Regions from separate parts of the Homo sapiens genome. Here all the other regions are linked to region 1. Evidence: fine-mapped expression QTL. A gene starts in region 1. Each other region holds a variant in brackets. All regions are shown on one strand. Distances are between the middles of the regions. Region 1 holds the start of FOXP4 (forkhead box P4). Region 2 overlaps FOXP4 (forkhead box P4). Region 3 overlaps FOXP4 (forkhead box P4).

What was found. PIP is the estimated chance that this variant, and not a neighbour inherited with it, causes the effect.
Region 2: its variant is fine-mapped to the expression of FOXP4 in prefrontal cortex (ROSMAP, PIP 0.92).
Region 3: its variant is fine-mapped to the expression of FOXP4 in esophagus mucosa (GTEx, PIP 0.99).

The regions. Positions count from the first base shown.
Region 1 is chr6:41,541,842-41,550,012 of GRCh38, forward strand. FOXP4 (forkhead box P4) reads left to right here and starts at 4,540. Exons shown (of 17, transcript NM_001012426.2): 1 at 4,540-5,026. It overlaps FOXP4-AS1 (FOXP4 antisense RNA 1), which reads right to left and starts at 6,780. Exons shown (of 2, transcript NR_126415.1): 1 at 6,537-6,780. RefSeq lists silencers at 2,550-2,844, 3,887-4,156, 4,487-5,166, 5,237-5,416, 5,707-5,856 and an enhancer at 4,227-4,336.
Region 2 is chr6:41,584,786-41,592,956 of GRCh38, forward strand. FOXP4 (forkhead box P4) reads left to right here. Exons shown (of 17, transcript NM_001012426.2): 4 at 1-106; 5 at 646-732; 6 at 2,224-2,371; 7 at 2,514-2,727; 8 at 3,008-3,112; 9 at 3,859-3,946; 10 at 4,986-5,069; 11 at 5,178-5,385; 12 at 5,486-5,562; 13 at 6,436-6,537. Among named protein-coding and RNA genes, the nearest start is that of MIR4641, 9.9 kb to the right of the region's middle. RefSeq lists enhancers at 1-59, 60-639. The variant C/T (reference allele first, on the strand shown) is at 3,471.
Region 3 is chr6:41,573,387-41,581,557 of GRCh38, forward strand. FOXP4 (forkhead box P4) reads left to right here. Exons shown (of 17, transcript NM_001012426.2): 3 at 4,600-4,695. Among named protein-coding and RNA genes, the nearest start is that of MIR4641, 21 kb to the right of the region's middle. RefSeq lists enhancers at 4,991-5,614, 5,615-6,237, 8,151-8,171. The variant C/A (reference allele first, on the strand shown) is at 3,271.

The DNA.
Region 1 (8,171 bases):
TAAGAGTAGAAAACTTACTTGGGAAGGCCAACTTCAGAAAACCACAAGGGAAGGATGGAGAATGGGAAAGAAGGAGAGTCACAGAAAGGCCTATATTAGCAATGATTTTTACATGTTTCACTTTTAAGCATAAAATGTATAGCTCAATTAATGTTTACAAAGTGAACACATGCATGTAACCAACTCCCAAATTCAAAAAGACCCCCAGAAATCCCCTTGTGCCCCTCCGTCACACCCCCACCTAAAACAGCCATGCTCCTGAGTTTTAATGCCATCAATTCATTGGATTGGGTTTTGAATTTCCTATCAATGGAATCAAACGGTGTTTTCTTTCGTGTCTGGCTTTTATGCTCAACGTTGGATTTGTGAGATTCCTCCATGTTGTTGCTCGTGGCAATGGTTTGCTCATTCTCATTGCCAAGGACTAGCCCACGGATGAGAAGACCGTGGTTTAGTCACCTATTCCATTGTTGACAGCTGTTGTGAATAGTGAGCACATGCGAGTAGATGGCCTAGCATTCTGGTGTATGCCTTTTGGTGAACATATGTACATATGCATTTTTATTGGCATATACTTAGGAGTGGAGTGGAGTGGAGTTACTGTATTATGCTGATAAAGTGGGTTTTATTTTTGTTTTTTGTTTTTTGAGACAGAGTTTCGCTCTTGTTGCCCAGGCTAGAGTGCAATGGCACGATCTCAGCTCACTGCAAGCTCCACCTCCCATGTTCAAGCGATTCTCCTGCCTCAGCCTCCTGAGTAGCTGGGATTACAGGCATGTGCCACCACACCTGGCTAATTTTGTATTTTTAGTAGAGATGGGGTTTCTCCATGTTGGTCAGGCTGGTCTCAAACTCCCAACCTCAGGTAATCCACCCACCTGCCTCGGCCTCCCAAAGTGCTGGGATTACAGGCGTGAGCCACCACACCTGGCCTATGCTGATGAAGTTTTATTCCTCAATAACTAAAAAATAGTTTTTGGCCAGGTGTAGTGGCTCATGCCTGTAATCCCAGTACTTTGGGAGGCCAAGGCGGGCAGATCACTTGAGGTCAGGAGTTCGAGACCAGCCTGGCCAATATGGCAAAACCCCATCTCTACTAAAAATACAAAAATTAGCAGGGCATGGTGGCATGAGCCTGTAGTCCCAGCTACTCGGGAGGCTGAGGCAGGAGAATTGCTTCAACTCAGAAGGCGGAGGTTGCAGTGAGCTGAGATTGTGCCATTGCACTCCAGCCTGGACAACAGAGTGAGACTCTGTCTCAATAATAATAATAATAATAGAAACATAAACTGTCTGGGCTTAGGTTTGTTGGGACCATGGGAATGAAGCAAATGTTTCTAGATGTACACACCACTACCACCCCAACCTACTCCTGAGTATCAGGCCTGCTGCTAGGAACAAGCTCATCCATCAGCCCACTTCACCTCCACAATAGGGTGGCGGCTGACCTTGGGAAAGGGCGTCTGCTTCAAAGCAGGAGACCTGGGAGCAAGTCCTCGCCACACTACTTCCTAGCTATGTGAACTGAGCAAGTCATTTGACCTCTCTTAGCTTCACCTGCAGAAGAGTCACCATTGCTGGGGTGATAAGCTGAACAGCACGTTATTCGACTGCCTGGCAAGCATTTAATAAGTGGCAACTCATGATTTGCAGTTTTGTGAGGTCAGCATTCGTCATTTTAAGTGAGGACCCTGGAGCTCATCAAGGGGAAAATAAGTAATTATGGAAAGCATGTGAGGAACACATTACCAGGCTAGAAGTTTTGCCCATCCTCCCTCCCAAACACCCAAGGAGGCCTCCCAACCTCCCAATTGATGAGTGAGGTGATGAGTGAGTTAACTGAGACTCAAACATCATGTAACTTGCCTGGGTCACACACTGGTTAAGTGACAGACGCTGAAGTTCAACCCAAGGCTGCCTGACTCTAGCCCCTGTGCTCTTAACTATGGCCCCCCTGGAGGGGCCAAGCCATGAGCCTTGGTTCCGGCCACCGCCAAAGCACCTGCACCTGCCCTGAGTCCTGTGAAGGAACAAGGACAGAAAGAGGACCCTCCTGCCTGCTCCCGGTCACTCCCACTTTGGAGCCAAGGGCTACTCTTTTCAACCTTCTTAACGAAGCTCTTGCACCAGGAAGAAGGGCTTTGGACTGGCTTCTTTGATTTCGGGGCATTTGTTCTGTATCTTTCTTTGGGGAGGCTTTGTCTTCCTCGCTAAAATGCCCTTTAGGTGAAGACAAGACAGGGTCTTTTGATGCCTTGAGCCCCCACTGTAGCTCACAGGGAGCTGGGAACTGAACTGGCCTGGAGATGAGGGGTAAACTGAACTGAAAGTGAAGCATTTCCCAGGGCAATCCCTCTGGGCAAGTGAGCCCATGTGTAAGGTACAAGGGCTGCTGCAGGAAGGGGATGGGAAAAACATTCAGTGAACCAGCCAGAAAAGGGCTGGAGAAGCCCCTCGGAGGTCACCTCATTCAATACCCCCCTACAGAAATTCTCTCTTTTGTCTCCAAAGCCCCTAGTTCTCACCCCACCCTCAGCCTTTGCTGCAAGAAGGATAGGAAGGAGAACTGAGGACATAGTCACTGGCCCAGCTGGTCTGACACAAGGACTTGCCACTCCAGGCTTGGCCTAGGGCTGTCCACACACCATGATTTCCACCAGAGCTGGGCCTCAACAGAAGGTAAATCAGATAGTACTACCAAGGGCTTTCTTTCTCCCAGAATATCCTTCCCCTCAGCTAACCCACAAGCAGGCAGTGTCGCTTCAGAGACCACCATGAGCTTCTTTCTTGTCCTCACTGAAGTGGCTCTAGTTGGAATCTGGCTCATCACTGACCAGCAGCTGTGTAAGCCTGGGCAAGTTACTTGATCTCTTTGTGCCTCAGTTTCCTCTTCTATAAAATGGAGATAATACAAATATCTCCCTCCTGGGGTTACTGTGAAGATTAAATGGCTGGTGGGTGGTACGACTCAGATGTTAGCTGTTATTTTATTCTTATGGCTATGGTTATCTCAGTTGCCACACTGGAAAGGACACTGAGATATCCACATAAATGGCACTTAGAGTCTTCCCTGCACAATTTCACACCTAGAAATCTAAAACGCTCCAGCAGGACCTAAGTATGCCTGTCCCACCTGCCCAAAAAGGCAAATACATAAAATGTGGACCTGTGCAGGTGTCACTAACATTGCAGAAAAGGGACAGAAGTGATGAAAAACAACCCAAGAGGGTGCCTCCTCTCTGAGGTCCCCTTTTCTTTCAAGGACCACTGGAACGGCCAAGAAATCCCCTCCCCCCAGGCAACTAAGCATCAATCCTTGCAGCTCCGACCCCACACCTCAGGCTTCCAGCTCCCACTCCACAGGGGCTCACATACTATGCCAGCCTCTTGTCCACCTGCCTGAGGATTTAGGGCCAGGAGAGGCTTCAAGAGCCACTGTCTTCTTGTCCTGATCCCACAACAGGATCCTCCCTTGGTCATGGGGACCCGGCATCACTGAGCTGGGTTGGGGTACTTCATGAGGACCCCTGAGGCCTCCTTCACTTCTCCCCACCCCCAACACATGCAGACAGATGGGAGATGTTTCCGGCGTGTGTGGGGCGGGGAGGGGGACGGGTATTGAGATTTCCACGGGACTCTGAGTGGTGCGTCTGCTAACAACACAGCCCTCCCCCTTGGGCCGTGGGCATTTCCTCACCCAGACCTCCCCCTCCCAACCCAAACACACCATCGCCGCCACCACCACAATCCCTCCAGTCCCCCTGGGCAAAAGCGATGTTCAGAGACGCGGGGTTTTGTTTACAATCTAATTTGTCCGGATAATTGCCTCAACTTTGCACTTCACTTTGCCCGCATGGCTCTGGCCTTGGGCCCCTTCTTCACTGGTTCGCAGAGCACTTTACGGGAAATTCCCTTTCCGCAGAGGGAGGCAGTGCGCGCCAGGGGGTGACCGTTCACAAAGCCCTGAAGGGGCCTCCCCACCTTCTACCCTCGGCTCAGGAAGCCCACCCCCAGCCCCCACGCAGTGGGGAGCAGGAGGGAGGCCAGACAGGGCCCGGGCCTGACACTGGCTCCGTCTCTGGGCCCCCGGCCACTCCCCGCGCCGAGCGCAGCCCGCCGGGAACCAGTGAACCGTGTGGGATCAGGACTTGGCCGTACCTTCAGACTCCAGGGGATGGCCGGGGTTTGCAAGCGCCCCATAGGATTAGTCCGAGGCCAGGGTGAATCCCTGGGGTCCCTCCACCTACCATCTTTTTCAGATCTGCCGCCTCACGTCTTCTCCCCACGTTCCCATTTTTCCTCCCCTAAAGTTTGGTGCACGTGGTTTTCTCTCGCTCTCAGCGGGCTGCCAGGCGGGGTGAAAGTTGCTGCACCTGCTTTAGGCGAATTATGGTAGCACTAGAAGTTGGTCTCCCCTCCCTCCGCCGCTTGCTCTCTCGCTCCCTCCTCCCTCGCTCTCCGCGCGCTCCCTCCTTCCCTCTCCACCCTCCTCCTCCCCCGCCCCCTCCCGCCCCGCCCGCGCGCCGCCCGCTCGCAGCCACTCGCAGCCCAGGCTCAGTCGCAGCCCCTCGGAGTCCGGAGCCCGCCGTCCCTGCGGACCGGACAGTGCGGCCGGCGGCCGGCGGCCGGGACGGAGCCCCCAGCCCGCGAGGAGGGCGCGGCGCAGGCGGCGGCGGCGCGGCGGGGAGGAGCCCGGGCCGGAACCAGGGCTGGGCCGGGGGCGGGGACGCCGGGGTCCGGGAGCCCGGGAGCCGGAGCGAGCTGACGAGCGTCGCGGAAGGACCGGGAAGGAAGAGCGGAGCCGGAGCGAGCCAAGCAGCCCACAAAGTGCCATGCCCCGGCGGGGTTGAGGCGCGCGGCGGTCGGCCCGGCGCGCTGGGAGGACGCCCGGGAGCTGCGCGACGCGGGGCGGCGCGGAAGGGCAGCCCCGGCGGGCGGCGGCGGGCCCGGGCTGCGACCGGAGCGAGCCCCATGCCCCGCGCGGGCTGACGGGCCGGAGCCCGCACGGAGCGGCCGGGCGGGACAGGTAGGTGGCGGGTCGGGCCCAGGGACGTGGGTGGGGGCTGGGCGGGCGACCAGACCAACTCCCTCGCTCGCGCACTCTCTCGCCCGCTCGCTGGCTCACTTTGTGTTTGCAAACTGCCCGCCCGAGACGCGCTGGGCGCCGGGCGCCAGGAGGAGCCGGGCCCGGGCCGGCGCACTTTGTTCCAGCCAGGGCCGGCCGTGGCGCACTGACCCCGCGCAGCCGCGACATTCCGCCCCTGGCCCGGGCCCCAGCGGGCCGGAGCTGCCTCGGGAACAGGTGGGGGCTGTGGCGCGGCGGGAGTGGGGGCAGCCGGAGGCCGGGGCGGGGAGGGGGGCGGCCGGAGAGGCCACCGAGGCCCGCCCTTCCCCAAGAATCTGGGCCCCGCCCCCTCCCCGCCGGGCCTCTGGGAATGGGGTGTACGGGGGCGCGACCCCCTCCCCGCCCCGAGTCAGACAAAGAATACTTCCCGGCCCAGACTTTCCAGAGCTGGGAAGGGAAGTGGCTCCCCCCAACTCTAGTCGGTACCGGACTCCCCAGGACGCGCCGGAGACAGATGAAAATGGGGGCAAGAGAGCGGGGGATCGCGGTCCTACCCGCCGTGTCGTCTCTGGTGAAGAGGGGACTTGTCTTGCTGAGGTCGCACCTCGGAAGTGCCAGGGCCAGTCAGCCCCTTTTCCATCGCTCGGTCAGCTCGGGGATAGAGCGGAAAACTTCTTGGGGACTTGAGAGCGTCTGGAAATGGCCCCTGTGATTTGTGCGCCGGAGGTGGAGGGTGGGGAAACGATCTGGCTGACACCTCTACTCACCCGCTGTGGAGAGAGCTCCCGCTTCACCACTTAAGGGGGGAAGAGAGGGCGGCCACGGGGGCCCGGAGGCCACCAGGGAAGGAGCCCGGAGTGACCGAGCAGGACCCCCCCCCGCCCCAACTGAGGAGTCTGGTATCTCCCCTGGACAACCCCAGCACCTCTCTGACCGGCGGCGCTTCAGCCTCGGGCTCCTCATCCACGCCAAACAAACTTCCTTGGGCTGCGTCAGAGCACAGCCAGTGGCGCTAGAATGCGACCTGGGGTCCCGGCCGCCCCCATAAAGGACCGGGTAATTTCGCGGAATGCGGATTTTGAGACAGGCCCAGACGGCGGCGGATTCCCTGTGTCCCCCAACTGGGGCGATCTCGTGAACACACCTGCGTCCCACCCCGATCCTAGGTTGGGGGGAAAGGGTATGGGAACCCTGAGCCCAGAGCGCGCCCCGCTCTTTCCTTTGCTCCCCGGCTTCCCTGGCCAGCCCCCTCCCGGCTGGTTTCCTCGCTCACTCGGCGCCTGGCGTTTCGGGCGTCTGGAGATCACCGCGTGTCTGGCACCCCAACGTCTAGTCTCCCCGCAGGTTGACCGCGGCGCCTGGAGCCGGGAATAGGGGTGGGGAGTCCGGAGAACCAAACCCGAGCCTGAAGTTGCCATTCGGGTGACTCCCGAGAAAGCCCGGGAGCATTTTGGCCAATGCGGGTTTTTACCTGAACTTCAGCATCTTCACCCCGGTTTCGGAGACCTGCCTAGATTCGTCCCAGCACGCACTGTTTCGGGTTCGGGATTGAGGGTTAGGGCAGCACACACAGCTTGAGGGGCAATTGTTAGGACTGGCCCGAGTGCCCGCAGAAAGAAAGAGCAGCGGGGTTGTCGTATGGCCTGTAGCTGCGGGAAGGTCTGTGCCGGTCCCACTGTCGAACCCAGAAGCTCACTTTCCACAGAAAACCAGGGCTGAAGGGCCCCCTGACCGCCATGCCCTGCGGGCACCGGGCATTTTGAGCTCTCCCCCACCCCCTCCCCCTGCTGCGAACCAGCCGGTAGGTGCAGGGGCCGAAGGCCAGGCCCAGTGGACCCAGCCGCCTGAAGGGGAGCCACGGCCTCAGAAAACCTCTGCCCGCCCCCGCGGAAAACCGCTGTGGGGAAGTCTGAAGGCCTTTTTTTTTTTTTTTTTTTTTCAACTTGAGAAACTTTTGCCTCGGGGTTTTGGGGCTCTGTTACCTGGTGGCTGGAGGGAGGATACTGGGGCTCTGCTCTTGGTACCTGGACAGCTTGTTGGCTCCCATGGTGCCCTTTCGATCTGAAACTCAAAAAACTGTGAGTTGGGGGAGTCACTCACACTCTAGTCAGTGGGGCAAGGTGGCAAGGGGAAGAGGTGGTTTTGTGGTTGCCCCCTCTCAGCCTCCACACCCAGGGCCAGGGTGAGCGCTGAATCTCTCCTGCGGGACGGGACCCTCAGGACCCACTTTATCCTGGCTCCAGCCTTGCTACTAAGTTTGGGAGACCATGGGAGCCTTCTCTCCTGGCACCAAGGGCTGGGCGCCTGGGTGGAGTTTTCTGTCCTTCTCCCTGTCCTGGACAGGTTTCCCAGGAGTTACGGAGTTGGGGAACCCCTGAGCCCTGGAGAGAGAAAGACCTGACCCCAGTGCTGGAGAACGCCAGGGCCAGAGCATTTGCAAAGGGTCCCACTTGCAAAGGGACCTGCTCCTGTCCCTTTCTGTGTAGGGATCTTCCTCACACCTAGACGCCCCCAGCCCCCTTCCTCTGCCTTTAGAGCCGAAAACTTCCGTTCTGGCTGTAGGCAGGTAGGTCCCTTCTTGCCAGGAATGTGCATATCCTGCTGGGCCCCTACCCCAAACATACCTCTTCCTTGGTGGGAGGGAAGCAGAGGGACTGGGAGAGGAAGGCTTGCTTTTGATCCAGTAATTCCCCCAAATGTTTGCTGAGCCCCTACTCTGCCTGGGCAGGTCCCAGGCTGAGTACTGGGGTACCCAAGCAGTGAAGGCTGGGGTCTGCTGTCTGGACCTCAGATTGTTGGGGTAGGAGAGACAGATATCACATGGTGGGGGGGAGGGTGGAGGGGAGAAGAATGGGAACAGGGTGTCTGTTTCAGAGGAGAGTTGTGAGGTGCAAGGGGAGGGAAGGGTTGTCTCCCCAGGAAGCCTTCCCTGCATCTTAACCCTTCCTACCCCACTGCCTTGGCGGTTTCCTGTCTCTCCAGCCACAGTGCAAGCCCCCCAGTCCCATCCTAAGCAGGCACAATGTCTTTATTTTTTGAATAGCCTAAACTGTGTGAAATAATAATTTCTTCCATCCAAGAAACTCCTCACAGTTTCCCTTCTCAC
Region 2 (8,171 bases), 43 kb after region 1:
CATGATGTCGCCGCAGATGCTTACCCCGCAACAGATGCAGCAGATCCTGTCGCCCCCGCAGCTGCAGGCCTTGCTCCAGCAGCAGCAAGCCCTCATGCTCCAGCAGGTGAGTCTGGCCCCAGGGCAGCTGGTCCCTCCTCCTCTGCCTGGCCTGGCTCCTCCCACCCTGTTTACACCTCACCAAGGGCCCAAGCTGTCCCAGAAACCAGAGAGACTGCTCAGGCCAGACTGATCTGCATTCCTCTAGGGTAGTGGGGAGAGGTCAAAGGTCAGGCATCTCTTATGGTGGCCCTGCCCCCACAATACTCCCCGGTCCTCCCTCCCTGCATGCTGGCCCCACTTCTATCTCCTGAACAGGGAAGGGCAAAGTACTGGAACATTCTGGCACGTTGTCCCCTGTGACCTGCTCAGGAGATCCACCAAAAGCAGGGAGGGTTCAGAGCTGTGGGAATGAAACTCCTCCATCCCTTGCTCCCTCCCTCCGCACCCAGACCCTGCTCAGGGCCCCTCCAGGCTGACTGGGGAAAGCCAGACCATGTTTTAGGGAAACTCCCTTCTCCTGCCCCCAGGAGCCCAGATGGGACAGGGCTGGGGTTGTGGGGATAGCAGTACCCTGCCAGTGGTAACCCTCCTCCACCCCCCCAGCTACAGGAGTACTACAAGAAGCAGCAGGAGCAGCTCCACCTGCAGCTCCTCACCCAGCAGCAGGCTGGGAAACCGCAGCCCAAAGAGGTAAGGGGCTGTACCAGGGCCCACCACCGCCCTCACCCCCTGCCCAGAGCTGGGTGTCCAGAGCTGGTCAGGAGGGAATTGCCTTGCAGGAATAGTAGAAAAATCTAGAAAAGGCTGAGGAAGGGGACCAAGGATCAGTGTGGGGGAAATGGGGATGGTGGTTCTTACGTGTCTCCATCTCCCCTCATCCCCATTCATTCTTTCTCTCCTTGCCTCGTGTTGTTGTCTCTGTGCACATGGGTGTAGACAGGTGTGTACGTGTCACCCCCGTGTGTGGTGTCTGCCGGGCCACGCTCATGTGCCTTGTGGTCGCACCATCTTCCTGCCCCCTTGTCTCTTTGTGACCCAGCACCTCAGCCCTCCCCTCCTTGTCCTGCGAATCTCTGAGTCCCTCAGCAAACCACCTCCCCTTACCTCAGCCTGCCCCCAGCTTCTTCCCCTTCTTCTTATGACTTGCCCAGCCACCCCTCGGTCTCCTCTCAGAGCTCCCCAGCCTACATCCCCTACCCCATCGGAGCTTCTATACCAGGCCCTGGAGGCCCTTCTCCCCTGGGTCCCAGACCTGTGCATCTCTCCTGCTGCCCAACCGCAGCCCCAAGCTCTAAGTTTCCTCTTCCCAGAAGGCTGCCCTGACACCCAGGAATTCTCCAGCACCCCCAGTCTCCCCCTCAGCAGTCTTGTAATTGCTGTGTTATCAGCAGGTAAATCTCTAGGCTAAGTTTATCCTGTGTCTCTCTATTGAATAGCCAGCCCCCACCCTACCCCATGCTTCCCACCCCCAGCAGGCAGGCAGAGACATCTCTGCCTCTCAACCCACCCAGGACATGCTTGGCTCATGGGGCTCAAGAGAGACTTGCTGACAGCCTGACTTGTCAGTGCCTGTGTGAAGAACTGAATGGGTGGGGGTAGGTAGAGTGGGTGAGCCAACGAGTACAGGGCGCCTGGGCAGTGGTGATGTGACTGTTCTCCGAGCCTGGGTCCCAGTGAGTCCCGTCAGACTCCTTGATTCTCTGTATCTAAAAAGCAAGAGAGGAAAAGAGCTGGGGGAGAGAAAACTCCCTCCCCAGAGCAGAAGGGGGCACCCCGGGCATGTGGGAAGGGTGCCCTCCAGGCAGGAGTGGCCCCCAGAATCTGACAGGCTCATCGATCATTGTGATGAGGCACCCCCAGGCGTGCACAGCTGCGGTGCAGGGAGCTGAAGCAGCGGAAGGAGGGAGGCGGGAGGAGGGAGGGCGTCGTGCTGCGTGTCTGGGTCTGGCTGTGTGTGTTTGCGCGCGTGCGTGCGTGCGTGCATGCGTGTGTTTACTGCGAGGAGGCATGCAGCCTTATGGAAGCTGGGCCGGGAGCAGAGACACTGCAGCTGCAGACGCCACAACGACAGCTCCAGGGGCTGACAGGCCCTGGGAGGGGGTGGCCGCGGGGTGGGGGCCAGATGGCATGCCTGAAGCTGATGGCACCCCTCTCTGCCCGCCCCCTCGGGCCCCTCACCAGGCACTGGGGAACAAGCAGCTGGCCTTCCAGCAGCAGCTCCTGCAAATGCAACAGTTGCAGCAGCAGCACCTGCTCAACCTGCAGAGGCAGGGGCTGGTCAGCCTGCAGCCCAACCAAGCCTCGGGGCCCCTCCAGACCCTTCCGCAAGGTGAGCACCCGCCACTCCTCCCCTCCCAGCCCCAACCCCACAGCCCTGCCTGTACGCAACAGCTGGCAGCCCCTGTTCTTGGGGCCAGGTAGAAAGCCGAGTGTTCGTGGGGCCCTGCCAGCCTCCCCTGTCTCTCCCACAGCAGCTGTTTGCCCAACAGACCTGCCCCAGCTGTGGAAGGGCGAGGGTGCCCCCGGGCAGCCTGCCGAGGACAGCGTCAAGCAGGAGGGGCTGGACCTCACTGGCACGGCCGCCACCGCTACCTCGTTTGCCGCTCCCCCCAAGGTCTCACCCCCCCTCTCCCACCATACCCTGCCCAACGGACAGCCTACTGTGCTCACATCTCGGAGAGACAGGTACAGGGGTCCAGGCTGGGAGGGGCATCAAAGGCCTGCCTGGGGGTAGACCTGGCCCCCCACCCATGAGGGCTGACTGTGAGGGAGGGGGTGGAGCCCACGGACCGGAGGTTCACTCCCTCTCCACTCCCTCTCCCGGGGTGTACAGATGGTGCTTGGCCGCTGGGAAACCTGTATTGGGGCAGAAATGTCACCAGCAGGGGAGCTGGTGCTCAGCTGACTACAGGGCCGCTGGGGTCTTCAGGGTCCCTGATCGGCCACCTCCCTGCTGTCCTCCCAGCTCTTCCCACGAGGAGACCCCCGGCTCCCACCCCCTGTACGGACACGGAGAGTGCAAGTGGCCAGGCTGTGAGACCCTGTGTGAAGACCTGGGCCAGTTTATCAAGTAGGTGTCACCCCCAGCCCCTCCCCCAGCAGCCTTTCCCCACAGGGCCTCTCCCCCAACCCTGCCCACTAGCTTGCCCCTTCTGGGAGCCCTCCTCACTAGCTGTACTACTGTCCTCACTCCAGAGGGTTCTAGTTCTTTCTCTGCCCCCCACGGACTCCCTGATCACCCACTCCCTACCCTGTCTATATTTCTGGGCCTGCATTCCCCTGACTCCATCCCCAGCGCAGGGTGCGGGTAGGAGAAGGAGAGGACAAACATAAGCATTACTCCTCCCCCCACCCTCCCCTGCTCCCCTCCAGCCTCAGCCCCGGGGAGTGATGGCGAGTGACAGGCTGAGGGCCGCAGACAGGCAGGG[C/T]GGGAGGTGGACGGGCGGCTGGCAGCAGGCGGCCAGCTGCCACAGCCGTGCCAGGCTCTGTCACTGACTGATTAACTCCGCTGTCTCCCAGACCCTTGCAGCATCAGGGTCAAACAAATTGTTTTCACGCTTCGTCAGAGGTTTACTTAATTAGTTCATTTGCAATTAGATCTCTCTGTAGCTGGGATTTTAGCAAAGACATCAAAGGAGGCTGACGAGAAGGGAGAAGCCTTCCTCCATTGCCCCGTTTTTCCACCTCTTTCTCTTCTTTGTATCTCTTGGTCTGTCTGCTTTTCAGGCCATGGGTGGGATTAGAGGATAGGATGGGAGGATGGTGGCAGCAGGGAAACCGGAGCCAACTTTCTCTCCTCCTCTCTTCCCCTTGAAGACACCTCAACACAGAGCACGCCCTGGATGACCGGAGTACAGCCCAGTGCCGGGTACAGATGCAGGTGGTGCAGCAGCTGGAGATCCAGGTGTGGCCCGGAAGATGCTGGGGAGGGACATGGTGGGCTCCAGCCCCTGCCCACCCACAGCACTGACTTGCTAGGTGGGCTCTGTTGGGAGGGTCTCATGGAAGGGTCCTATGGTCAAAGCCACCATCTTATGCTTTCTAGGTCCTAATGACCATGGTTGTGAGGTGAGGACAGCTGGATTCTGAGGGGTAAACCAAGGTTGGGGGCGTCTCTGCTGGGAGGTCCAGAAGAGACTCACGCTACATAGAAACATCAAAAATAATTATTAGCAGCTAACATATGGAGCACTTACTTTGTGCTGTGCTAAATACTTTATATAGCTCAAGGAATCCTCTCAACAACCTTATGTGGTGGGTACCATTATTCTCCCCATTTTCCAGATGGAGAAAACAGGCACACAGAGCTAAAGTAACTTGCCTGTGAGTGGCAGAGCTGGGATTAGAACCCAGGCAGCCTGGCTTTCCCAAGGGAGTATCCCAGCTACTTGAGAGGGGACACTCAGCAGCACAGGGTTCCCAGGAAGCAACTCAGGGCAGCTCCTCTGTGCTTACCCATCTCCCTCCAGCACCTAGCAGAGCATCCTGCTGTGAGAGGGTGGTCATGAGAGACCCATTGAGTTTATGAATGGGGTGTCTGAGCCATTCATCAGTTCCTGCATCTGCATTCAGTATGCAAGGCCCTCACACACAAGTGCCACTGCACAAGGCACAGTGGCCGCCCCCCCGTGGGTGGGTAGGAAGAAGCCTCCCAACATGTAGAGGCAGGGATAAGCTCCAGCCAGGACGCACTGGGAGGGCTCAAATGGTCACCATCCAGGGGAGAAAGGGAGAGGCTTCATGGAGCTGGCAGCCCTTGAGGGGTAGAGCATTGCTGAGGCCTCCCTGGAGCGGGTCACAGAGGGAGCATGGATGCTGAGGCAAGGAGGCGAATGGGGGTGGGAATCGGCGGCCTTCTGAAGAGCCTGGCGGTGGAGGGGTGGGACAACACTGCCTCCAGGGTTCAGCCTCCCGCTCACCTCCTGCTTTGCCACCCTCCACAGCTCGCCAAGGAGAGCGAGCGGCTGCAGGCCATGATGGCCCACCTGCACATGCGGCCCTCGGAGCCCAAGCCCTTCAGCCAGCCAGTGAGTGCTGCTCCCCTCCCCGCCCCTCCCAGAGCCTTCCACAGACCCTGGAGCCTCGGGACCCCCACCCTCGGGCACTGGTCTCAGTACCCTCCCCGTTGCTCACAGCTGAACCCGGTCCCCGGCTCCTCCTCATTCTCCAAGGTGACCGTCTCTGCAGCAGACTCATTCCCAGATGGTCTCGTGCACCCCCCGACCTCGGCCGCAGCCCCTGTCACCCCTCTACGGCCCCCTGGCCTGGGCTCTGCCTCCCTGCATGGTGGGGGCCCAGCCCGTCGGAGAAGCAGTGACAAGTTCTGCTCCCCCATCTCCTCAGGTGAGGGTGGGCTGGGGGCTGCAGGGCGACAGCAGCGTGAGGCTGTTTTTCCCATCTGAGCCCCATATCTGGCTACCTCATCCTCTGCCTGTCTCCCCAGAGCTGGCCCAGAATCATGAGTTCTACAAGAACGCCGACGTCCGGCCCCCCTTCACCTACGCCTCCCTCATCCGCCAGGTGAGCAGGGCAGGTAGGAGGAGGGTGGGGAATGGCACACAGGCTGCTCCCCCAGCCCCCGCCACACCCCTGCCTCCAGGAAGGTCCTGGGGCCAAGCAATGGAGCTGTCCCGCTCCCTCTCACGTGGCGGTCTTCCCTCTCTGCTGTGCGGGGCTCTCCTGCAGGCTGGGCCCTGTCAGCCTGCTGCATAGGGTTATGTGTCTCTGGGGGTGCACACACTGTTCTTCTTACTGACACCCACCGTGGCATTCATGTGCTCATTTCCACGTACACAGCCCGCCATGATAGACTCAGGGTCACTCTTCGTCTCTCTCCTTTGTCTTTCCTCCCTCAAGCCCATGATCTTCATGTCACCAATGTTCACATAGTATTCACACTCAAGCATGAACTTACATCGACACATATGTCCTCCCTGATACCCACACAGGCATGTACACCTTCACACACATTCTTTCTGTCACACACACACTGTGCTTAGGGTACCTTTTGCCAAAATCAGGATAAATTCCAAACAGCCTCCACCCCGTGGACATCTCTCCCAAGAAAGACAGGACTGACTGCTTTCACCCTCGGTGCAGGGCCAGGTACTAAAGGCATTTTCTCTCCAGAAGCAGCTCCAATCCTTCTTGTACAAATACATAGCCCTTGGAGGCTCCTGCCCTCTTTATCCTTGGCCAAGCTATAACCAGCCTGTCCCTCTGAGGGGACCCACCAGCCACCACCCATCTTGTTATCCACACATTTCTGAGCAGGTCTTCTCACAAAGTGAACTCGGGGCTAGGCAGAAGGGAGAGGTACTGGGGGAGGGAACCCAGGGCTGTGACCCTTCGAGGCCCAGGCTGACGGTCCCTTTGCTTGTTCCTTCCCCGCAGGCCATCCTGGAAACCCCTGACAGGCAGCTGACCCTGAATGAGATCTATAACTGGTTCACCAGGATGTTCGCCTATTTCCGCAGAAACACTGCCACCTGGAAGGTGAAGCAGGCCCCTTCCACCTTCTGGGCCCCAGTCACCCTTGGACCTGCCATATCCCATGGAGACCAAGGCTGCCTAACAATTAGTTCCCTAAACCATTAGTCCTGCAGAAACAGCCACCCAAGGGCCCAGCCAGGGCTGCATGCCCACGCCCACCTCAGCAGGGGCTGTGGATTGTTCCATAACCTTTTAATGATCCCTTCCTTCCAGCCTGGTGCTGCCTCCTTTCTGGGAAGCAATCCTTCTCTAGGGTACACCCCCAAGGGCCCCAAAGACGCCAGCCCCACGAGGTAGGGCCTCTAGGAATTGCTAATGCCCAAGCTTGATACAGAAGCCTGGGCCGAATTTCACAGAGACCCTAAGGGTCTGGATACCTTGGCTTAAGGTACATGTTCTGAAGCCTGAGGTGGGGCTAGGAAAGCGCAGGTATAGACACACGGATGGACCAAGAGCCGTGGACCACACATTGGGGCACTGACGGCACTCACAGCCCTCCCCAGCTCTGCCATCCCTGGCAGGAAGATAATTGTCTCCATCCAATTAGTCATTTCAACACCTTCAGCCATAAGTTTTCCTGGGAGAGCAGAAGCAGGCAAGAGGGGGACTCTAGAAAAATGGGAGACAGATGCTGGGGTACTAGGCCATTTATTTTTCTATAGCCAAAAGGGGGGTGTGTGTGTGTGTCTGTCTGTCTGTCTCAAGGTGGGAAGGTGATATCTAAATTGGGAGAGTGGGCGGGGCGGGGGGAAGAAGGAGAGAGTGTTCGCCCCTGCAGGGAAGGTTAGACGCGGGGAAGGACTCCCTCTCAGAACCTTAATTGGATCCCTGGCTCTTGAGTCCCCCTGCTGGCCACTGAAGAAACTGCAGTTAAACGGGCTACCTCCCCCAATCCCACTAGGTTTCAACAAGTGTTACTGAACCCCTCCTCCCCACCAGCGCCCAGGACTTGGTGGGGTCTGCACAGTGCCTGCCTACCCTTTGCCCTGGGATTATGCTAAGTGCAGCAGAAGGGACTGCATCATGACTTTCATATGCTCATACCCAATTCCCAAAGCTTGGGAGAGAAGCTGGGAGGCTGTTGGGACAGCTGCTGTAATTGGCTGTGAGTGATGTCATTTTCTGCCAACCACATTCCTGCCCTCTTTCTGAGCCAGCAGGGCTTGCTTGGGACCACCTGGTCCAGTCTCCAACCTCCAAGTCAGTTCAGATACCAGGTTTTTATAAATGATAGAGTCCTACAAACATAAGGGATGATTATAATTATTACCTAATGTTTAATAAAGCATATTAATCTTTTGCCTTTAGGGGTAGTAATATAGAGCCTCCTTTCCATAAGACAGCCTCCTTTTTGGGGGCAAAGTACTGCTAAGCCACCTACCTTCCTTCCTTCCTTCTGTCTTACCTGTAATGCCCTGCTGCAATTTTCTAATTCTCTCTTCTCTTGAGGTCAGGTTAGGTGACCTGGTTTAGGTGACTTCCTTAAACTACTCAGTGACCATCCTGAAGCCACCCCCCTGATATTCTAACCCTGCCGCCCTTGCCCAGCCCAGCCTTTCACATCTCTGTGGTGTGTTCCTCCTAGTTCTTCACCCCCATCTCCCCTCACCTAGTCTAGGGTCCAGTAAGAAGCATCT
Region 3 (8,171 bases), 32 kb after region 1:
TCTCCACCATCCCAACCGCCCTCCCTGGATGCCATCCGTTATAAGCCATTTGTTCCTAATTGCGGAGATCCTGCTAATGACTTCTGAATGGGGGATGGGGGGAGGAGAGTTCAGCTTCATTAGCGAGACTGAGTTCTTAAGCTTGAGGGGGAATGGGGGCTGGGCTGGAAGAGGGTTTGGTTAGCAAGGCCTTCTGGGTGGCACCAGGCAAGTGACCAGGAGCTGCTGGTGAAAGATCAATCATCATAATAGCGTTCGTCCAGGACCTACTGGGTGCCTGGCAGTGTGCTAAGTACTCCATGTGCACAGTCCCACATGCTGTTCCCAGGAACCCCATGAAGAAAGTATGGGGTTGTTCCAGTTTTGCAGAGGAAGAAACGGAGGCTCAAAGAGATGGTGACTTGCCCAAGGTTACCCAGCATACGGTGGAGCCAGAACTTGGATCCAGATCTCTCTTGACGTCCATGCATGAATGGACAGTACACCTCCCTTAGAGGAAAACTGGACATCATCCCCAAACCACAGAGCTGGACATTTGGTTTTCAGTCCAAGGGGTAGAAGGAGGAAAAAAATGAGGTTCAAGAGGCCAAATGGCTCCCAGTTTTCCACTCTGCCTAAGCCCCCTCTTCCTCCTCCCCTAGGTTTTCCATAATGGCTTCTTCCTGGTGTGGGTATCTGAACACCTTTCTCACCCAGGGCTGTGTTTGGGTATCTCTTGCCCTTAGGGAAGGGAAACTGAGCCCAGTTTTCCCCTGGAGTTTCCTTTCTTGGTCTTCTTCCTCCACCTCCACCATCTTCACTTCCCCTTCTCACTGGAGGGCTGAACACATGCAGATTAGGGGGAAGGCAGATTTGAAGGCCTCGCTGGACTGTGCATGGGATCATGGAGACCCCTCAGTGGAGTAAGCCCTGAGCAGTCAGAGGTGTTTGGACTCTGCCACTTCCTAGCTGTGGAACTTCAGGCCTCAGTTTCCTTGTCTGTAAAATAGGGATATCAATACCTGCTCCACCTAGCTCAATGTTGTGAAGCTTCAATTAAATGTTTGAAAAAGTGCTTTGAAAACTGCAAGGCAAATGTTAGCTGTTAAGTTTAGTGTCAGCCTGTGCCAGCCTCCCGTATTCAGCCTAGACTAAAATGAGTTTTGTGAGTGGGTATCACATGTCTGCTGTGTGCTGGTGGTTGGAGATGGGGGTTCACAGCTACAGTTGACAACATCTGTGCTTTCAAGGAGGCCCCAGTCTGGTTGGCATATTCAAAGAAAGTGGGGCTGGGGATCTGCCGGAGTTAGGACCCATTATTTCCCACGTCTCTCTGAGGTGGGCAGTCCAGTGATCTCCAGGCCGCAGTGCCAGCAGGCAGTGTGAACACATCTGGTGCAGCAGCGTGGTCGATGTGACCCTCCTCGTTCACCGTGTTAACTCGCCCTTCAGATGGCGAGACTCCAGTTAGTGCTGCCACCACCTCTGGGAAGCCTTCCGAGACTTCCCCAGGTAGAAGAAAGCCTTCTCTGACCCCTGGCACTCACCCCCACTTCAGGCTGACTAGTTTCTTATCATTCGTGTTTTGTTTTGTTTTGTGTTTTGTTTTGTTTTGTTTTTTGAGATGGAGTCTTGCTCTGTTGCTCAGGCTGGAGTGCAGTGGTGCCACCTCGGCTCACTGCAAGCTCCACCTCCCGGGTTCACGCCATCATTCTGCCTCAGCCTCTGGAGTAGCTGGCACTGCGGGCTCCCACCACCACGCCTGGCTAATTTTTTGTATTTTTAGTAGAGACGGGGTTTCACCATGTTAGCCAGGATTGTCTTGATCTCCTGACCTCATGATCCGCCTGCCTTGGCTTCCCAAAGTGCTAGGATTACAGGCATGAGCCACTGCGCCTGGCTATCATTCTTTATATTAGAGGCTATCATCACAGAACCTGAGCTGTGAGCCCTGGGGGGGCAGAGGCCACATTCTGTTTCTGTGTATCCCCAGCCCCTAGCCTGGTCCCTGGCACGCAGCAGGTACTTCATAGATGTGAGAAGAGTGGTGAGTGAGGACCCATGTATGAGAAGGAATGGTGGGAAGCTGAGGGAGGGGAGCCTTGGCCAGACCTAAGGTCTTACCTGGCTCTCATCTGGCCTGGTCTTGGCAGGAAGAAGGAAAGGGGTTGTGGGTAGGGGGTGTAGGGGGAGGAAGGGCCTGTCACAGGGAGGGGGAGGTCTCAGGAATGAGACTGCAAGGCCTTGCCATTTTTTTCCTGTAAATCATGTAATTTCATGCTCCAGGGGACCACAAAGTAAGAGAGTCAGTGGGGAGTCAACTCCCCTGGCCACCCCCCACCCCACCCCAGGAGACTGAGCAGGGCTCTGCCCCCAACTGCCCCCAGGAGCCCCTCCCTGCTGTTCCCTCCTGTCCCCCGGGGATCTGGAGTGTGTCATCTCCCCACCCCAACCAGTGTCCCTTTTGGGTCGCCTGGGCTGGCCAGCCTCTCTGAGCCATCTTCTTCCCCTACCCTTGTGCCCTGGCCTCTGACCCCTGTACCCCCTCAACCCTACTCTACCTCCACCTTTGGAGGACAAAGAGCACTTGTCAGTAGACCTGGAGGAGTTTGTAAAAGCAAGGTAGTAGAGGCAGGGGCTCCTTCCTAATGACCACCTGACTCCCTGCCCTTCCTCACCCGCAACCCCCCCCCCCACCCTTCCTCCTCTTTCCGCAGAGCCTTTTGACTTAGAAAGGTCAGATTTCTGCTTTCTGAAGTGAATCTGGAAGAGGAGAAACATCCTGTCCCCCTCTGGAAGCCCAGGGCACTTCTCTGGGTGTGACATCCAGGGAAGGAGGTGGGGTGGGGGTGGCCTGTGAGGAGCACACCAATCTGAGCTCCAGGTTTGCTGCAGGACACCTTCCCGTCAATAGGCCAGTGCATATTTAGTTGCCCTCCTAGGGTAAACTAGATTTAAAGCCTCAGGAGGCTCGGCTGTTTGCACTGATGATGAACGGACGCGAAGGTGGTTGTGTGTATATGCTTGGTACACAGTGGTCACTCTCTTTGCTTGTTGAGCGATGATGGGTGGTGCAGCCATATCCCACCTTAAAAGGTTTTGCCTTGAAGGTGCTTGTGGTGGGGTAGGAGAATAGGGGCCCATACAGAAAAAACAAGTGTATGTGTGGACAGATGTGAGAGAGAGCCACAGGCGGGCGCATTTCGTCTAATAAGTGCGCAGGGCACGAGGCTATGTTGGGGAGAGGCTGGAGGAGGTGAAGTGGAGAATTGTGGAGAGATTAATGAGAGC[C/A]GAAGGGAGTGAATACTTCCCGAATGCCAACTGGATGCCAAACATTGGTCCTTTAATCCCCCTAGTAATTTGGAGATGGGTAGTTTCCCAGTTTTGCAGATAAGGAGACTGAAGTGCAGAGAACTGGAATAACTTGCCCAAGGTCGCAGCTGGCAGGCCGCACAGCTGGGATTCAGACCCAGGACTGCCTAAGGTTGGAGCCCTGTGTCAAGGGCTTAGACACACCTGCACTGGCTCCCAAGGGGGTCTTGAGCAATCTGGAAGCAGATAAATTTTGTGCTGCTGAAATGTGGATTCAGAACTTGCCTTCAAACCTCCCACTGAAGCATAGTGAGGACATAGAGGGCTTGACTGGCCTCATAGATAATTTCCTGGGCCCTCCTGACCCCTCACTCCTACCAGACGTCTCACTGCCCATCAGTTTACCTTCCGGGCCCCTCCTACTCCTTGACTGTCACACTGACCCACTGGAGTGATTCCTCCAGCAATCTCCATATGCCTCCCACTCGTATGACCCCTCTGGCTCAGTTCAGTCTAAGCCACTGTGGCCACCAAGCCCACAGCACGATGGTCCATGCATCTCTGCTGATAGTATACCTTTCAGAACTTAATCTAATTCCTCCAGCAGCATGCATGTACAATCCTTGAACTCAGAAAGTCACACGGTACTCAGACCTTGTGCCACTGACCCCAGGGCTCTTCCCTCATCCTCCCAACTGTGTGCTCTGGCTCCACAGTGAATGCTACTTTTTAGCCCCCAGACTGACCACCCAGTAAGGCAGTTGGCCTTGGAGCCAGGCTTCCTGGGCTCAAATCTTGGCTCTGATGCCGCCTAGCTGTATGATCCTGGGTAAGTTACTTAACCTCCTGGAGACTCCGTTTCCTCATCTGCAAAATGGGGCAATAATCCCTACCTTACAGCCTTACAGAGGAAGATTAAATAAGCTCTTGCCTGTACAGTGCCTGACCCATAGTAGATGCTCAACAAATAGTACTGATTTACTAATGCCCTGAGTCAACCCCCTTTATTTTCCTCTAAGAGTCCCTTTTTGACCATGGGCCCTTCCATTTGCTGTCCCCATTGAGTCCTAACAAAACTTCACTGGGTCCCAGGCTGAGTCTGTAGAGGCTCTGATCCCTGAACCCCAACAGCTCTTCTCAGTGACTTCTACTACCCTTACCCCAAGCCCTTATGGACCCATGACCCTCTCACCCCCAAGACCTTCCACCTTACCCTGATCTCCTTCTCCTTACTGCCCCAAACACTCCCTAATCCCTGGATCCCACCCAGCCTCCCAGGCCATTGCTGACTCAGCCCCTGTCTTGCAGGCTCTCCAAGTGGCCCGGCAGTTCCTGCTGCAGCAGGCCTCAGGCCTGAGCTCCCCAGGGAACAATGACAGCAAACAGTCTGCCTCTGCTGTGCAGGTGAGGAAGAGAGCACCCCGCTGGCTCTGGGTTGGGCTGGAGTGTGGGCCTGGCACAGAGGGAGGGCAAGGACCCGTTGGAGAACTGCTCTTGCCAGTTCCAACACCAAAAAGTGGGCAACTTTTCAAAGGAAATACAGTCACTGCAGGGGTGGGGCAAAAAGGCTTCCCACTTTCTCTCGTCTCCACCTGATCAGCCAGACCTTCCGCTAGCTTAGCCTCTTTGTCCCTGTCACTCAAAGTTTGTCTGCAGCTCTCCCTGTCTCTTTGTACCTCTCTCACTGTTTGTTCTCCCCTGCCTCTTCCCTTCAGGGTCTCTCTTGGTCACTTCTCATGTTTCTGCGTCCCTGTCGGTCACTCCCTCTGTCCCTCTGTGTTCCTGTGTCTGGGGCTCAGCCCCTCCCAGGCCATCTCTGTTGCTGCAGTCACGTCACCAAGTCCCCCCTTCTCTTATCCTCCCCCCTTATCCCTCATCCACCAGCTCTCTCGCAGTCTCTCCATGCTTCCTGTCTCTTGATGTCTCTCTGTCTCTTTTGTTTTCCTTTGCACAATCTGCCCTTTTTTCCCCTTCTCCCTTCCCTCCAGCTTGCCAGCCCATCTGGCTGGCTGGGGGAGGGGAGATCTGTGGGGGGTGGGCGGGGGGTGGGGGAGCCAGGCCTTCTGTTTACCTTTTGTGTCACAAAGAACTTGGGAGAATTGCAGTCTGAGTCCGGGTTGGGTCACTACTCGGGCAGCCACTCCCCTCCCCCTCTGCCCAGCAGCCCGGGATCCATGCTCCCCCCACCCCTCCCCCAGCAGAGGGAGGCTCAGAATTGGGGAAGGGATTAAGCCAGGCTTTGAAAGGAAGTTTATCTAAGGGAAGAAGGGTGAGTATGGTTGGTTCTGAGCTGGAGGTGCTCTGGAGTCTGGGGCTGGGTGCTGAGGGAAGTGAAGAGGAGGGTGGGGTGGGTGCAGGGTGCTCAGAGAAGGACCCAGGACCAGGCTTTGTCCTGGGTGGAGATTCCAGTGCTCTGACAAAGTCTGAGTTTTATGTAAAACAAGTTTATGTTTGGAAAAAGTTCAAGGTGCCCAACAGATGTGCAGCCTTAACAGTAACCCTCTTAAAATTCTTGACCCTAAGGAGACAACCCTCAAAGGGGAGGAGCTGGGCAAAGATCAGGGCGTGGCCTGGGGTGGAGGAGGGGAAGACACAATCTGGAAAGTCAATAAAGAGAGGAAGAGAAAGATCTCATCAGAATGAGATCTAAAAGGTTCTCATACCCATGCTGGTCAGGATTGGGCCTCTTTAAATTAATGATCCCCACATACAATCCCAGGGTTTGAAGTGGTCCTTGGGCTTCCACTCTGAATCCTGCCCGCCCTGGACCCAGCTTAGAACAGGAAGGAGTAGGCTGGACAACAGCAAACGTTCCCCCAAACCAGAAAGGGGCTGCTGACCCAGGGGTAGGAGGGTAGGAGCTTGATGGTAGTGGGAGGGACTGGGGTAAGACATCTAGAAGGACTGCTCAGCTGGGGATTAAGGGTCACAGATCTGAAATAATTGAGAGCTGAAGGGAGACTATGGAATCTTCCTTAGGAAACTCCCTCCCTCCAAAATAAGAGAGGCCTAGAGGTTTCAGAGTCAGAAAGACAGATAAAATGATGTTTTTCTCAGGCCTTCTCTCTCCTTGTCTCATTACTTCCAAAAATTCATTGATTGATTCATTCATTCATTCAACAAATACTTACTGAGTACATCCCAAACTAACAACTGACATATACAGAGTGCTTACCATGAAGTGTAGACACTAAGCGCTTTACAGCTATCTCATTTATCCTCACAGTCCTATGGGAGAGGTGCTATTCTAGCCCCATCTTGCAGATGAGGAAACTGAGGCCCAGAGAGGTTAAGAAAGTTGTCCAAAGTTATACAACAAATAAAAGACAGAGTGAGGATTTGAACCCAATAGCTCCAGAACTCACACTTTTTTTTTTTTTTTTTTGAGATGGAGTCTCTTGTTGCCCAGGCTGGAGTGCAATGCCGTGATTTCAGCTCACCACAACCTCTGCCTCCCGGGTTCAAGCAGTTTTCCTGCCTCAGTCTCCCAAGTAGCTGGGATTACAGGCATGCACCACCAAGCCCAGCTAATTTTGTATTTTTAGTAGGGTTGTATTTTTAGTAGGTTTTAGTAGCGTTGTGTTTTTAGGTTTTCTCCATGTTGGTCAGGCTGGTCTCAAACCCCCAACCTCAGGTGATCTGCGCGCCTCTGCCTCCCAAAGTGCTGGGATTACAGGCGTGAGCCATCGTGCCCGGCCAGTAGAACTCACACTTTTAATCTCTGCATTGTGACGATCCCTTGTGCTTGGCACAATATTGGTAATAATGCCAATATTTCCCTGGTGTAGAAGCCTAGGCCAGATGGTTCTCAGGGTCTCAGGGATATGGGGGTTCTTGGGGCCATGGAGCCATGCTTCCCCAGGAGCCTGGATTCCCTACCTATATTGATCCCTCTATTTCTTCTCCAACCCTGAATACCTTCCTTGCCTTCTGCCCCTATTCCTAAGTTTATTATCTCCAAGGAGGTCAGATCCTTGTCCTGAAGTAGGGCCCAGGGCCTTGAAATGTTCTTCTATGAGCTCAAGATTGGTGAGGGGATAGGGGAGAGCAAGGACTGGGCTCCCCACCCGAGCAGAAGAGTGCATCTTGAGCCTGAGTGCAGTGGATAATGAAGGGAGATCAAGCGCAGCTCCTTTCCCAGGGCTCCCCACAGAACGCTGCTCTGCTCCCCAGCAGGATTTTCTGCCCACGCACCTCCCAGCCACGTTCACCATCCCTCTCCTCCAGAGCCAGCTTCAGAAGAGTTTCCAAAACTATTGTCAGGTCTCCAGCTCCAGCCTAGTGAGGGGCCCTCCTTCCAGGCCTGGACCCCACCAGGGAGAGACCTATCATAGAAGGCAGCACAGGTGGCCGAGAGTTGAGGACATGATGGGGGCAAAGGTGGCTGGGGCCTTGGCTTCGTCCATCCCCATCTGGCATTTTCAGAAGTTCTTCTTTATATCTCACTGCTATCTTTCCTTGCTGCAGCTGCAGCCCAGGATTAGTTTGAGGACTTCTGGTCATTTGCAGGAGAGTTTAAGCCAAACCAAACTCTGGCCTGATCTCCCCACATTGCCCCCCACTCACAGGGACCCCATACTCAAGAGACAATTTGGGTTCTTGACCCTGGCACCAAATTGCATTCGTTCCCACTCTCAGCCCTCAAATAAGCTTCCTGTGTGTCAGGCACTGTCCCTGTTCCTTCCAGTCAGACCGTCCAGCCGAGCACGCTGTATTCATGGGTGGGTGCAGGGTCCCTGAGGGAGGGGCTGGAGGCAGCTGCCGGCGTTTGGCCCAGGGCTCACACTGCCAGGGCTTAAGTTAGCACTTAGCTGCCCAGCTACTCTCCAGATGGTGACTCATGGGCCCTGCTGAGCCTGCTAGCTGCAGAGCGCCCATCC